Linked DNA regions of Homo sapiens: regions 1, 2, 4 and 5 are each reported to be linked to region 3. The links are microRNA targets in miRTarBase. Many come from high-throughput screens and were not tested one by one. Region 3 holds a microRNA gene; each other region holds the end of a gene's coding sequence.
The links. The annotated mature microRNA hsa-miR-1249-5p reads AGGAGGGAGGAGAUGGGCCAAGUU and lies in region 3 at 1,427-1,450, opposite strand. An mRNA with a match to its seed (bases 2 to 7 or 8) in the 3' UTR can be bound and repressed. Matches are read on the target gene's strand: a 7mer-m8 pairs with bases 2 to 8, a 7mer-A1 pairs with bases 2 to 7 and ends in A, and an 8mer does both.

Region 1 (3,000 bases), not on the chromosome of region 3:
CGGGAAATTCTTTAGTCGAAGTTCTGACTATATTGCACACCAGAGGGTTCACACTGGTGAAAGGCCTTTTGTGTGCAGTAAATGTGGGAAAGACTTTATCAGAACCTCCCACCTTGTTCGACACCAAAGAGTTCACACTGGAGAAAGGCCATATGAGTGCAGTGAATGTGGGAAGGCCTACAGCTTAAGCTCCCACCTCAATCGGCACCAGAAAGTTCACACTGCAGGCAGGCTTTAGGAGTGCTTTGAATACAACAGGACTCATCAATCAGATGTTGAATTTCATGTATCTGAACATTGACACAAAGGAGATACCTTATGGTGCCAGGTACGTGGGAACCTTCTAGGGATATGTTGCACTTTCTGACTTGCTCAGGTTTTTTGCCAGAGTTATGTCACTGTCAATCCATGTGGCCGAAACCATCTTAACTCTACCAGCTAAGATACCCCAGCATTGGGGAAGGCAGGGTTTTGTATTGTCCAGTCCCTGGAGAAAATCATGAAATGCCTGAGTTCATTGGGGGTCCTCATTCCCTTCTGTATGACAGGTATAGGTATGGATATGACCCATTTTTAGCCAAGAGGGTCTGAGCTGTATCTGCTGGTGGCTTATACAAAAAGTTTACTTTCTTCATGGATATTCTTGGTCTCACATACTTGTAATCAAGTTTTTCCAGCCTCCAAGTCACCTGGCCTGGGAAAGTACTTGCCTCATGTTGCTCTGGTTTGTGATAATAAAGGCTTTACAGTTTAAGCCACATTTAATCTTGGGGCTTCTTCTTATGGTCTGGGGTGGATTGAAAACAGGCTCTGCCAAACTGAAGACAGCCTTTGTGCGGTGCCTCCAACTTTGCCTCAAATGGGACAGTGGGTTGAGGGAGAACAGTTCTTAGTCCAGTTTTGATGTTAACTTCCATAGCTGACAAAGCTTGTTAAGTAAGAATTAAGATCTTGTGTAGACCTGATTTGTCTGGATTTTAGAGTTATTTGAGAGCCCATATTTCACCTTGAGGAGGGTGCTGCTGCTGTGACAGCCTGCAGTGTTTTGAAACAGCATGGATTGGGTGTCTTGTTTGCAGCATGTGTCCCATGTTCCCCAACACTGTTGAGGGAAAGCTGTTCCTCAGGACCTGCTGAGTGGCCATATTCCCTGAAGGCCTGAATCTGTTTCACAGGCCACTGTTGGTAAGATCTAAAGCATCCAGTAGGGAAACAAAATTGATAAATATTGAGTGTGAGTAATTGGGATTGGGGAGATTGTGGCAAACTAGAGGGGAAGTGCCCATTGTAAAAACACATCCACAGACAGTCCAGGCACTAAGGCTGAATGGGATCAGGGTATCCAGAAATCTCAGGATCTCCAGGGCCATGTTACTGTTAGGTCAAGGTCACTGGTGCAGCAACGAATGTAGTTTTTCTAGATTCCTCTCCCTCCCTGGGCTCTTTACCTAATGTCTTTGCGGCACAGGCGGTAACCCTGGGAGTAAAGAGGTGTGGTCCAAGGAAGTAGCTTTTGTGACCAGCTGGAGTTTCTGGTGACTCTTTTGGCAATGGTCCTCATTGTTTGCCAGTTTTTCTTACTACTGAGGAAGAGATTGTCTTCCCAAGATATTTGGAGTGATAAGAGTCACCATAGTGAGGTAGAGTCACTCTTAGTGATGTCCAGTTGTCCAGTTTCCAATAGAAGTGGGAGATCCAGATTTTTAAATGGGATAACTTTTTATAGGTTCACTGAGGTGTAATCAACATGCAATATATTGCACATATTTAAAGTGTACGAGTTAAGTCTTGATACACACACACACACACACACACACACACACACACACACTTGAAACTATCACCCTATCAGTGGTATTGGACATATCTGTTACCCCCAAAGTTAACCTGAGGCCCTTAACCTTTCTCTCAGTGCTCGCCTTCCCCCAGAATCCCTAGGCAACCACTGAGTAGTTTTCACTGTAGGTAAATTTGTCTTTTCTAGAATTTTATGTAAGTCTGCCTATAAAGTGTTAATTTTGCATGCTGTCTTTCATGCAACATAATTTGAAATTTGTCCATGGTATGTATGAACAGTCCATTTTAAAATTACTGAGTCATATTCTGTATGGATATACCACAGTTTATCCATTTATCTTAATTGATGTCTGTACTCCACCCCCATTTTTAAATATTAAAAAGCTGCTGCAAATATTGATGCATGAGTCTTTATGTGGACACTTAGCTGAGAACATTTTTAAGCAGAGGTTTTGAAGGTGTGACCATATATCTTACTAATTATAGTAAAATATATTGGAAAAGAGATACATACAGGGAAGAACTGTGAAACAGAAAAGACCTAAGATTTGATGATTTGGGAAATTCTCAGCCCATCTTAATTGGAAAAAAAAAACAAACCATTGAAATTAAGAGATTCATTGTTAGGAAAGATAGATGTTTTAGAGAGAGAGATGTTTTAGAGAGATAGCCAAGGATGTTTGCTGATACCGGGATCAAAACATACATCAGAACACTGTCACACAAAAAGCTCTTTGAAGAGATTAAATGTGACTTGTAGATCCCCTCAATACAAACAATTTATAAGAAGTTTAAACTATCACTCATCTCAGCAAAAGCCAAAAATATAGATAGGGGATTCCCTAGGAGGAATAATCTGCATAAACCTCTTTTCTAATGTTGTGAATTTCAGTGATGTACAGGAGACTCACAAAATTCTTGAAAATTTTATACCAGTGGAAATGCTCACCTTGGGTCTAAAGGGACCTTGAAAGTATGAAGTTAAAGGGTGTAGGCATGTAAAGTGTGAAGTTAAAGGTTGTAATATTCTATACATGGGACTGGCTGCGGAAACAGGTGCAAGCCCTTGCTACCTTTCATGAGAAAGGAAGGATGACTCAGAGCAGAGGAGAGTCCAGTGGGCAGAGTCCTGAACCATGTGATATTCCCATGTCTTGACTCCCAGTGGCATTTGCCAAACTAGATTTCAGATTTTCTTGGGAT
Region 2 (3,000 bases), not on the chromosome of region 3:
CGTGGGCGGGGAAGAGCCCCCACGGTGCGCAGGCCCTGGGGCGCACGCCGGCCTGCCGCTCTGGGCCCTGCCGGGGGGTGACGCGGAGTGCCCGGGCCCCCGGGGCCCGCCTCCCCGCCCCGCTGCGGACAGCTCCTCGGAAGCCCCTGTCCACCCAGCCTTGGCTCCCAACAGCTCAGAACCCTGGGTGTGGGCCCAGCCGGTGACCACGGGCAAAGGTCAAGATCATAGTCCGTTCTGGGGGTTTTATTTTCTGCTTTTAGCTGTTCAGGCCATGATCACCGTGATCATCGTGTTTGCTATGATTAAAATTGGCCAACTCTTTCGAAAATTAATCAGAGAGAGAGCCCTTGGGTAAACCAATGGGAAAATCTTCTAATTACTTAGAACCTGACCAGATGTGGCTCGGAGGGGAATCCAGACCCGCTGCTGTCTTGCTCTCCCTCCCCTCCCCACTCCTCCTCTCTTCTTCCTCTTCTCTCTCACTGCCACGCCTTCCTTTCCCTCCTCCTCCCCCTCTCCGCTCTGTGCTCTTCATTCTCACAGGCCCGCAACCCCTCCTCTCTGTGTCCCCCGCCCGTTCCTGGAAACTGAGCTTGACGTTTGTAAACTGTGGTTGCCTGCCTTCCCCAGCTCCCACGCGGGTGTGCGCTGACACTGCCGGGGGCGCTGGACTGTGTTGGACCCATCCGTGCTCCGCTGTGCCTGGCTTGGCGTCTGGTGGAGAGAGGGGCCTCTTCAGTGTCTACTGAGTAAGGGGACAGCTCCAGGCCGGGGCCTGTCTCCTGCACAGAGTAAGCCGGTAAATGTTTGTGAAATCAATGCGTGGATAAAGGAACACATGCCATCCAAGTGATGATGGCTTTTCCTGGAGGGAAAGGATAGGCTGTTGCTCTATCTAATTTTTTGTTTTTGTTTTTGGACAGTCTAGCTCTGTGGCCCAGGCTGGCGTGCAGTGGGCCGTCTCAGTTCACTGCAGCCTCCGCCTCCCAGGTTCAAGTGATTCTCATGCCTCAGCGTTCTGAGTAGCTGGGATTAGAGGCGTGTGCCACTACACCCGGCTAATTTTTGTACTTTTTAAAGTAGAGACGGGGCTTTGCCATATTGGCCTGGCTGATCTCAAACTCCTGGTCTTGAACTCCTGGCCACAAGTGATCTGCCCGCCTTGGCCTCCCAAAGTGCTGGGATTACAGGCGTAAGCCACTACACCTGGCCCTCTTCATCGAATTTTATTTGAGAAGTAGAGCTCTTGCCATTTTTTCCCTTGCTCCATTTTTCTCACTTTATGTCTCTCTGACCTATGGGCTACTTGGGAGAGCACTGGACTCCATTCATGCATGAGCATTTTCAGGATAAGCGACTTCTGTGAGGCTGAGAGAGGAAGAAAACACGGAGCCTTCCCTCCAGGTGCCCAGTGTAGGTCCAGCGTGTTTCCTGAGCCTCCTGTGAGTTTCCACTTGCTTTACATCCATGCAACATGTCATTTTGAAACTGGATTGATTTGCATTTCCTGGAACTCTGCCACCTCATTTCACAAGCATTTATGGAGCAGTTAACATGTGACTGGTATTCATGAATATAATGATAAGCTTGATTCTAGTTCAGCTGCTGTCACAGTCTCATTTGTTCTTCCAACTGAAAGCCGTAAAACCTTTGTTGCTTTAATTGAATGTCTGTGCTTATGAGAGGCAGTGGTTAAAACAGGGGCTGGCGAGTTGACAACTGTGGGTTCAAATCCCAGCTCTACCACTTACTAACTGCATGGGACTTTGGGTAAGACACCTGCTTACATTCTCTAAGCCTTGGTTTCCTGAACCTTAAAACAGGATAACATAGTACCTGCTTCGTAGAGTTTTTGTGAGAATTAAAGGCAATAAAGCATATAATGACTTAGCCCAGCGGCCTGCAGGCAATACATGTTAATGAATGTTAGCTATTATTACTAAAGGATGAGCAATTATTATTGGCATCATGATTTCTAAAGAAGAGCTTTGAGTTGGTATTTTTCTCTGTGTATAAGGGTAAGTCCGAACTTTCTCAGACTGGAGGTTACATTCACATCAGTCTGTCTTCCCCTGCGGATGGCCTCAGCCCTGGGTGGCCAGACTCTGTGCTCACAATCCAGAGCAATGGATCCTCCAACACCACCAGGTGGATGTGGAGCAGGAGAGCTGGATCGTGGCATTTGTTTCTGGGTTCTGCAGCTGTGGGAGTTGGTTTCTGGGTTCTCCATTGGTCTACTTGTCTAGTCCCATACCAGACTCACGGTCTCCATTATTGGAGCTTTAATAATTTTTGGTATAGGGTCATCTCTCCACCTTGTTTTTCTTCTATTCTTGGTTCTTTGCAATTCTATGAATATTTCAGGGTCAGCATGTCAACTCCATTGAAAAACCCTGCTGGGATTTTAATAGAACTTACAGCTCACGCCTGTAATCTCAGCACTTTGGGAGGCTGAGGTGGGTGGATCACAAGGTCAGGAGTTTGAGACCAGCCTGGCCAAGATGGTAAAACCCCGTCTCTACTAAAAATACAAAAATTAGCTGGGTGCGGTGGCAGGTGCCTGTAATCCCAGCTACTTGGGACACTGAGGCAGGAGAATCACTTGAACCCGGGAGGCGGAGGTTGCAGTGAGCCGAGATCGTGCCACTGCACTCTAGCCTGGGCGACAGAGCGAGACTCCATCTCAAAAAAAAAAAAAAAAAATTGCAGTAAATTTAAAACTAATTTGGGGAAGAATCTGTATTTTTTACAATACCTAGTGTTCTTGCCAGTAAGCATGGTTCATCTTCCCATTTATTTACGTCATTTTAAATCTTTCAGTGATGTTTTAGAATTTTTTTTATAAAAACCTTCACTATAAGAACAGAAAACCAAACACCGCATGTTCTCACTCATAGGTGGGAATTGAACAATGAGAACACTTGGACACAGGGCGGGGAACGTCACACGCCTGGACTGTCGGGGGGTGGGGGGCTGGGAGAGGGATAGTGTTAGGAG
Region 3 (3,148 bases):
GCAGGCTGAAAAGCCTTAGAAAGGTGGGAAATCCCCTGAAACTGACCAACTGCTGCACATCTGCGCTCCAAGCACTCTGCCAAGGAGACGCCTGAGCCCACCAGGACGGGACCCCCAGAGGCAGCCATTTCTGCCTGTCCCCAGCTCTACCCCTCAGCTCCTGGAGGGCTGCCTGGCACATGGCACCCACTCTCTAAGTGCTGCTGAATGAACAAATGAATGAATGAATAAATGAATGAATGACTGGTCTGGATCAAGAAGAGACTGAAGGGCACGGGGACCCTAGGGCACGGAGTGGGGGGTCACCTCCACCGTCGTCCTCCCGGAAGAACTCCTCGCTGTCGTTGGCCGAGTGCGACTTCTTCATCTCAGCGATCCGGTTCCGGGGCACCTTCCTCTTGAGGGATGGGGAGAAGAAGGCAGGCCGGTTGTTCCGTTCTGGGGTGGGGGGTGTGCTGAAGGAGGTCACCTGGGAACAAGCAGCCAAAGTCACCAGAGTAGCAGAACAGCCCCCTCCCCGGGGGTCCCAACGCCCCTCCTATCCCACCCTCAAACAACCTGACACAGCTCCCAGGGAAGAGGCCGCTGGCCCAGGAGGACCCAGGCCCAGCCGGCCCGTGCTAGGTGGGGCCTAGAGACTGGAAGATGCGTTCCAGCCCAGGGGCCAGCAGGACACCTGGCCACCAGTGCTACCCGAGGAGGGGCCAGGCTGCTGCCGCAAATGGCAGAAAGACCCCCCTCCTCTGGGCCTCAAACAGTGGGTAGGGGGTGTTCAAGCACAAAGTAACAACAGCTGCTGACGCTGAGTGAGCACTGGCCCCACACACAGACCCTCTGAGCCTCCAGCTCCGTGAGACAGGGGCTAGCGTCAGCCCATCTGACACATGGGGAAACTAAGGCAGGGACCGAGACCCTGGCTTGCCTGTGGTCACCAAGCAGGACGGCAGCAGCCCTGTCTTCTGTCCCCCAGGGCCACGCTCCTCATCCTACTTCTCAGGGCTGACGTGGCCCCATCCCTCTCATTCCCAGCACCCTTCACAGGAAATACTGTGCTAAGTAGCTCTATGCCTCTGTCTTCTCCCCACTTCTAATCACGTTTGGTTCTGTTCACCAAACATTCACACCCACTCAGGGCCAGGCAGGCACAGCACTAAGGACAGACAGGCACATTGCAGGTCCCTGCCCTCAAGGAGCTCACAGTCTGCTGGGGTGACAGACTCAGAGAGTGACAACCATAGACAGCATGCTGGCTGTGGAGACAGAGAAAGAGAAGCACAGGATACATGAAGCACAGAGGCAAAAGGGATCCACAGCCTGGGAAATCAGGGAAGGCTTCCTGGAGGAGATGCCGCTGGAGCTGGGTCTTGAAGGACGAGTAGGAGTTCGCCAGGTGAAGAAGGGGGGGAAGGGCGTTCCAGCCAGAGGGAACTTGGCCCATCTCCTCCCTCCTCCCCATGCCAACAATAATCTGAGGAGCAGGATGAGCTGGGACTGAGACTTCGGGAGCCCCGTCAGCCTCCTCGTCACGGCTCCGACATCCACCAAAGTCCTGGCAGCTGCTGGGCTCCAGACGGTGTTCCCACAAGCCGGGGAAGGTTTTTAAAAGATAAAAGAAACAAACAGCAGCAACCACAATACACAGAGTCAGCATGTGTCACGCACTGGCTCCAGACGACCCCGCCAGAGAAGGAGACAGGTAATAGCAGGCGCACAGGCGGCAGTCCCCAGGGGCCAGCCCTGCTGCTGACCCTGTGTGACCCTAGCACATCCCTCCTCCTGAATCCCAGGGCTGCCCAGCTGCTAAGGCACCAGGGACTTTCACACCCCTCACAGCCACTCCCGCTGGACAGATGGGAAAACCAAGGCTCAGGCAGGTCTAGTGACCTGTAGTCACTCAGCCCTCAGGCTGTGGCTGGAGGTGGCACCCGGGTTTGTCCAGCCCAGAGCTCGGGCCACATCTTCGTAAGGACTTTCACACACACATTTTGTCAGAGTCCCAGGGCATAATTTAGGACCAGGGAGAAGAACCAGGCCCTTTATCTCGGAAACAAACTCAGAAATATAAACCACCTCATTCCAAAGACAAGAGAGGCCCCTGCCTGGAATTCTCACCCATCTTTGCAAAAAATAGCACTTGCTGTCTTTGGCTTGCAAAACACATTCATTGCAGAAGATACCTCCCCCCCAAAAAAAGATATACAGAAGAGAAAGAAAACCAACATCTGACCACCCGGAGATATGCATGATTCAGATCTTTCTCGAACTAAAAGTATAACAAACGCACACTCCCTCATCTCAGGCATGCCTGCGGTAATGCATCGTTTACATTCCCACGCCTCTGCTTTCCAAGTAGGTCAACAGCAACTACTGCAGCTGCCACCTGGGAATCCTCCTGAGGGCCAAGCCCCGGATTCCTCAAAGCCTCCCAAATACTGAAGGAGCAGGTATCCTCGTGCCCTGTTTCTAGATGAGAAAACTGAGGCTTGGAGAGGAAAAGAGACACACCCAAGGTTATGAGAGCAGCAGAGCAGGATTCTGGCTGTGGGTGGCGTCTCTCCTGGACAATGGCTGGGCAAGACTGCCCCTGGACCTGTGCCAAGGGCACCCCCCTGCCCAGCACACCTGTACTCTTCCAAGAACTACAGCTCTGGGCAGTCCCTCTGGAAGAACCAGGTAGAGCAAAGCAGCCAGTGGGCTGGAGACCTTCTCCTGCCTGTGCCCCACCAAAGGCTTCTGGGAACAAAGCTGCTGCTGACCTCAGCCTCCCGCCCTGGGGAAGGAGAGTGGCCTAGGCAGAGCAGGGCCCCAAGCCCAGTGCTATCCCAAGAGACCTTGTGACCTGGGGCAAGCTGGCAAGTCTGGTTTCCGGCTGTGCGAGGCAGGAACGCCTCTCCTGCAGCAGAACCTCCTACAAACCGCGGGGCAAAGAGCTGGGTGGCCTAGGCCTCTGCATGCGCTGGCTGACCCTCAGTCACCATCATCCCCATCTGACTCACCGGGGAAGGCCGGCCACGTGCCCACGCTCACCCAGCAGGTCCACCCAGGCAGGCGCCAGGGCCGGGCCTGGGTCCCCAGCCAGTCTCTTCTGCCCACTGGCTCTGTGGACTCAGCCTGGCTTTGTGGCATCTCAGGGAGGCAGAAAGAGCTC
Region 4 (3,000 bases), not on the chromosome of region 3:
AAGAGGGTGAGGAATGAGGACTGCCGGCCATTCAGTGGGGCCCTGAAGGTGTATGCAGGCCGCTCCAGCTGGGCCCTGGAGGAGGACAGGGCAGTTGCTGTGTGTCTCTCATCTCTCCTGAAGGCTTTTCAGGGCTGGGAGGCTCAAGGCTGGCCACCTCTGCTGCATCTACTCCTGGGAGTACCAGGCCCGGGCAGATCTATTGGAGCTGGTGAGGCTCACATGGGACACCAGCTGATCCATTGCCAGGGAACCTCCCCACCCCAAGGCAAATGCTGCTGTCCTCTGAGGCCGCTCTTCCTCCCGTGGGCCCTTGGGAAACGACACCAAAAGCACCTCATCCCAGCTGGGCCCTTCACTCATGCTGCTATCTCCTGATGTCATTGTAGTCACACCATGGCCGCAGGACTCAGATACTGTCCCGAGGCCCCTCCCTGAGGGGCAGGTGGTGGGTCTCAGGGCCCTTCACCGGGCAGGGGGCAGTGGATGACTCGGTGCTACCTCTCAGGGCGGACAATTGGCTCAGAGGGGCGCAGCACCTGCAGTAAACATTCTGACCCCTGTTAAAGGATCTCAGCATTGGGGGGGCTGCAGCCTGTGGCTGCTCCATCTTCATGCAGAATCCCCAGTGTCCTCTAACGATCCCCCCACTTCCTGTCTCCCATCCCTGCAGTGTTTCCTCTCTCTGGTGCTTTCCCTAACCCAAGCCTCAGAAAACGCTTTCCCTGTGTGATCTTGACGCCTCCAGCCCTCTCCTCCACTACCTGCGAGGTGGCCCTGATCTGACACATGCATGGCCCCTGTAGTGGACAGCTGCCATTTGCGGCCACCATTGAGGATATCCATTCATCCAGCCCTCCCCCAGAGCCTTCTGTCCCTTGCATAGCCCATGTGTGTCCAGGGAAGTGGCCCCATGCCTAGCTCCAGGGAGCCAGCCCTGACGGAGAATTACCCCCTACCCCAGCCAAAATGATTGGACGCACAATCCAGTTCTGACCAACGAGAAGAGTGTTTATTTGCTGGGGGCATCTGAGACAGCAGAGGTGGTACACAGAGAAGATGCTGCTCTGGCAGTGAGGGAGGGATTCCGTGGAAGCTGCAGGCAGCCATCTTTTCATCCTCGGAGGTGGTGGCCTGGGATGTAGCAGATACCAACGCAGAGGGAGGCAGAAGACACTGGGTGAAATTGCTCACCTGCTGCCAATGCCAATACCACTGGACTTTTCACTTTCATAAGCCAAGAAATTTCCGTTAACTGATTAAACAAATTGCCTTTATTGTTAAACCAATGATTGGATATCAGAAACAGCCTAGCTAATATAGCTCCTTTTGGATAAAAGTAGAAGCCTCACATTCACCTTTAATGTTATTTCACTTTTTCCAAAATCAATTTCCTGGCACCACACAAACAAGAACACTGGTAAATGTATCACCTGAACTGCAGGCCACACATGCTCACGAGTGTGTCCCTGCCGTAGGTGGCTTTGAAGCCATATACATGGCTCTCCAGCTCTCGTGGGGGGCCAGGGGCTTCTGTGTGCTCTTCAAAGCCTTCACCCATTGGGCCTCTGTCCATCTTTCCAGCCTGGGGACCCAATATTTGCCCCACAAGGCCCAGGCAGGAGGGCCTCCAGCACGCGCAGCCCTGACCACACTGTGAGCAGCTCACTTGGCAAGGGTGAAGGGCCGGAGTGGCGTCCTCCTGATGTGGCTTCCTTCCAGCCTCTACCACCCCTGGGGGCCTCCTCCAAGGAGCAGGTGGTTAGATGTCCTCTTGTGCCCACACACACGGCAGGGTGGAGGAGGATGAACCGGAACCCAGTCCATGCTTCTGCCCCCACCCTGGCACCCCAAGGTTTCTTCTCAGGCAACAAGGAGCACACAAAGTGAGCCCCTGTACACAGGTGGCTGGGATATGTTCATCTTCCACAGGGAGGCCAGTGCTGGGGATGAGGACAAAGGCCTACGCCCAGTCCCAGCTCTGACACTGCCTTGCTGAGTCACCCATCAGCCCTAACGCTTCCTGGACGAGACAAGCAGATAGGGTGCCCCAGAGAGGAGCTGTGTCACTAAGGGCCAGGACACCCCATCTCTGGGTCACACTTGGCCACGGCTTCATTTTTGGCTTCAGTTTGTTTACTGAACAGAAGGGAGAGGGGCCCTGTGAGACAGAGGACACTGACTCAGGTCGGTGAGTGGCCCTCACTGTATAGAGTCCATGGCTGGGGACCAAGTGGCACTGAGACTCGCCCAAAGTCACATCACAGAGCTGGGGTGCCTTGCTGACTCCCTGGCCCCAATCTGCTTTTCCATTTGTCGAACGCACACTGGCACACTGGCTGCAGCAGCTGCGGGGGTCGGGGGGTTCCAGGGCTGGCTGTCACTTGGCCTCCTGCAGAGGTAAGCTGAGGGCTATGTTGGACCCGCCAGAAGTCAGGTGACAGCTGCTTTCCCTTTCAGGATCGGGAGGGAGTCACCTGAGGGTATATTCTCAGTGGGCTAAACATGACATGCGAGAGCCCAGCTCTCCAAGCGGCCCCTTCCTCCTTCTCACACCAAGGCACTTTCAGAAGCCGCTGGATTCCGACTGGGGCTGTGCCACTTCATCGCCGGTGCCTCTGCTGTGCCGGCTCTCCTCTTCTGAGGGTGTGGAAGCAAACCCAGGTCAAGCTGTGAGGAGTGCCTAGCACCTGGCCAGAGCCAGGTACATGCCAGCTATGATGATGATGAGCCCAACTGCAACAGGAGAACACACTTAGTGCGACATGCAGCGGTAGCCTGGCGTTGGGCACCTCCCCATGCTCCGAGAATTCTATTTGGAGAAGCCCTTCTCCATTGTCTCAGTCACTTCAGGGTGCAGGAAGCGGCTGGCCAACCGTTCGATGTCGTCCAGCGTCAGGCGACTCAGGGACCTCTCGTAATCCTGGGGAGAGAAGGGCAGGAAGATTCAGGGGCTGCCAGTGGTGGGGGGGCATACACTGCAACAGAGGTAGGGGCTGG
Region 5 (3,000 bases), not on the chromosome of region 3:
AAATGGTCATGGCTTCAATGTATAAAAGTTTTTCACAACATGGTTTATCACATTTTGCTATGATTAAGACCTCAGTGCTGTGTGTAGGTTTTGTTTCTGAATCTTCAGTCGTCAGCAATGCTGGGTGAGCTGTACTGTGTTTGAGACTTAACGAGGCCTAAGGAGGGGTCCCCAATACATTCAGAATTCCTGCTGCCAGTGGGGTTTGACCCAGGACAGAGTATGTCCAAGAATCAGTGCTACCTGAAAGTTGCTGCCTCCCTCCTCTTCCTCTGTTAATAATGGGAGAGAGCCTGCCCAGTCACGGCAGGTGTCTGGCTTTAGGTCAGTGGAGGGGTGTGTGTGTGTGTGTGTGTGTGTGTGTGTGTGTGTGTGTGTGTGTGTGTGTGTGTGTGTGTATGCAACATTCTTGCAAGGGGGAATCACAACTTCAGGTTGAATGAAGATGAAAAATTGATTTTCATAATTTACTAACATTCTGTATTTTGAAAATGAAAACAATTGCTTAAAAGGATTGACAATGTCTTAACTGAAGTGTAAAATTTAGCCTCTATCTTCTATACATTTCCAGCAGCCAAAAAGATTCTAAATGATTCTAATTGTCTTAGAATCCAAGTGGGATGCGAAGAGGAAGCTTTAAAAATTTCCATGTTTATCAAAAGGGACAAGGTTCTAAAAGGTTGAGAAGCACATTTTAGGTAAAGCGGAGAACTGGTTGACCTGGGGATGGAGGCTGGTTAAGGCCTGGTGAAGTTCAGAAGCAAAATACTGGCAGGGAATGAATAAGGAGTTAATGAAGAAGAAAAGCAGGGGAGAGTCAATGATGGAGAAAGCCTGTTGGGGAGGGCTGGGGAGGATTGGTGGAGTTCAGGGCCTCCTTCTTCCTTTGAACATCCACTTGATAACCCTGCTCATTCTGCTTGGCTGCTGGAGAAGTACTTCTGGAGGCAGCATTTATGTCTGCCAAGGAAACAACTTCCTTTCTTGAGTCCTCCTGTGGCTAGGGTTTAATTGAATTGAAATGCTATCTCTTATGTCCTTTTTTTTTGAATGTCATTACGTTGGCTGAAGTTCTGGTGACCTAAGATAGCTAGATGGGTTTCTAACAAGCAGTCAGCATTGCTTGCTTTCTGATAAATACATTTGTCATTTTGTTTCCCTTGGTCTTTTTGCTGCCATGATATATTTAAGTGTTCTGATTTGCAGACTCTGCCAGTACTATCTAGCTTCTAATTGTAAATGTTTATATCAGGAAATTGAACCAGTAATTTCAGATTTGGGACAACATTCTTGGGAAGAATAGAAAATTTTCACTACAGTATAAAAAGTAAAGGAAGTTTCGTTTTAGACTTTCATATGCAAAATGTACACATAATAGCAAAAGACATTCAGGGCATATTAAAAAATAAATACCTTGCAAAAATTCTCTGCTTATATATAAGAATAAGGGAAGATTAGGTAGTTGAATTCCCTAGCAATACTCATTTTCTAAAAAGTCTAGTTCTTCTATTTTGGTTTGTTTCTCTCCCTCTCATTGCCCTTTGAGGGGGAAGTCATTTTCTTTTACTTTGCCAACTTCCTGGTGGTGTTTCTGGGTTCTTTTCAAGCCTTTCCTATCTCAGTCCCACTCAAATGTCCCATCCCCCATAGTCCTACCTGTATGTCAGCGAAATGAGAATAGCTTCTCACACTTGCCCTTTACATAGGCAGTATTGGCAAGCCTGGGGTTGGCGCCATTGCAGAGAAACCAGTCCAATCACAATGGCTGTTCTACTGACCAGTATTTCATACGCTTGTGTAGAAGTTGACCACTTATAAAGTTGATTCTGCCATCAGGCAATATGTTTTCATAAAGTCAAATATGTCAGATAGTCTATTTGCCTCACTGGCCCTGAATTTCATTATTTGCACATTTTCTAATTGAAGAACATTCTTGTCATAAAGAACAACATGAAAATGATGTGCAAAATTGCTTGCCACAGCGCTAAATCACCAAAAGCACACAAATTGACATTCAAATTACATTAATAATAAAATGACTGAATAGGAATGGGTTGGCAAATATATCTTGAAATAAGCAGCCATTTCTATTATTCCCCAATTCTGCTTTAGTTGATACCTTATTAGCAGCTGTTGATAGCCATTGTGTTTAAATATACATTATGGCCTAATCTTGAAAATGTAGTTTGTATTTAGTCACAAAGCAGAAATGCCTGAAATTTGAAGGTGTTTACTCCCATAATTTCAAAATACAGTGTCAAATCTTCTAAATGACCTAAACTTGACATATTCATACACCCCATAGCATTAGCTGTGTTTGGTTTCTCAGGCTTTTTAACTCAAGGTACATTACTAAATGAGTGGGTTAATGTCGATGCACCTTGGAATTTTAGCCATCCCTAAACATGCATTTTCATGCAATTAAAAGGTAACGGGCTTATAAACTGCCTTTCATGTTCTTCCCGATTCTTGCAATTTCAACTTTTTAGAAGGGCTTTCGAAATAGTTCATGCAATGATATGTATGGCTAAAGAACTGCTATGCCTGGAAAGAAAATGAAGAACTTATTTCAGTTTGACATGAGGCAAGCTGAGGGCATCTGTACTTTCTCCTGCCTTACAAATGCTCTGAGATGATCGTGACCTTCCAGTCCTTAGAGAGTCTGATGCAAAGGCAGCTTCCCTGGCAGGCTGCGGTGCGGCATCAAAAGTGTCTGTCTCTGTCTCTTCGGGACCCACCTCTTCATCAGTTATAAACAATTTGGATTCCCTCCATTTGGGGTAAAAATCTTGGCTGCCTCTGGAGCCACTTGACTCACTCCCTGAAAGTTGTATATTCAGTTCCTCGGTCGACCTGATCAGGTTTTGCACAGACAAAGATTTGCCCAAGTCCTTCGGCACCATGGGACAGACAGACAACAGAGTTTCTCCTCCCATGTCAAAGCTTTTCCTCATAGAACGGTCCTTGGTGAGATTTGACTGTGCAACCTGAACATTTTCC

Region 1: miRTarBase lists ZNF134 as a target of hsa-miR-1249-5p. Seed matches in the 3' UTR shown: 7mer-m8 at 1,429-1,435.
Region 2: miRTarBase lists GP5 as a target of hsa-miR-1249-5p. Seed matches in the 3' UTR shown: 7mer-m8 at 441-447, 7mer-m8 at 502-508 and 8mer at 1,399-1,406.
Region 4: the mRNA of UBL4A is a reported target of hsa-miR-1249-5p. Seed matches in the 3' UTR shown: 7mer-m8 at 2,466-2,472 and 7mer-m8 at 1,079-1,085.
Region 5: the mRNA of KCNQ5 is a reported target of hsa-miR-1249-5p. Seed matches in the 3' UTR shown: 7mer-A1 at 330-336.

Annotation. Positions count from the first base shown.
Region 1 is chr19:57,621,166-57,624,165 of GRCh38, forward strand. ZNF134 (zinc finger protein 134) reads left to right here. Exons shown (of 3, transcript NM_003435.5): 3 at 1-3,000. The coding sequence ends at 238. Among named protein-coding and RNA genes, the nearest start is that of ZNF134, 8.4 kb to the left of the region's middle.
Region 2 is chr3:194,393,958-194,396,957 of GRCh38, reverse strand. It overlaps GP5 (glycoprotein V platelet), which reads left to right. Exons shown (of 2, transcript NM_004488.2): 2 at 1-2,137. The coding sequence ends at 358. Among named protein-coding and RNA genes, the nearest start is that of GP5, 3.8 kb to the left of the region's middle.
Region 3 is chr22:45,199,567-45,202,714 of GRCh38, forward strand. MIR1249 (microRNA 1249) reads right to left here and starts at 1,453; the gene lies at 1,388-1,453. KIAA0930 reads right to left here. Exons shown (of 10, transcript NM_001009880.2): 8 at 307-469. RefSeq lists an enhancer at 2,761-2,905 and a cis regulatory region at 2,833.
Region 4 is chrX:154,482,727-154,485,726 of GRCh38, forward strand. It overlaps UBL4A (ubiquitin like 4A), which reads right to left. Exons shown (of 4, transcript NM_014235.5): 4 at 991-2,923. The coding sequence ends at 2,813. Among named protein-coding and RNA genes, the nearest start is that of UBL4A, 2.4 kb to the right of the region's middle. RefSeq lists an enhancer at 2,578-3,000.
Region 5 is chr6:73,194,979-73,197,978 of GRCh38, reverse strand. It overlaps KCNQ5 (potassium voltage-gated channel subfamily Q member 5), which reads right to left. Exons shown (of 14, transcript NM_019842.4): 14 at 1-3,000. The coding sequence ends at 2,565. Among named protein-coding and RNA genes, the nearest start is that of KHDC1L, 29 kb to the left of the region's middle.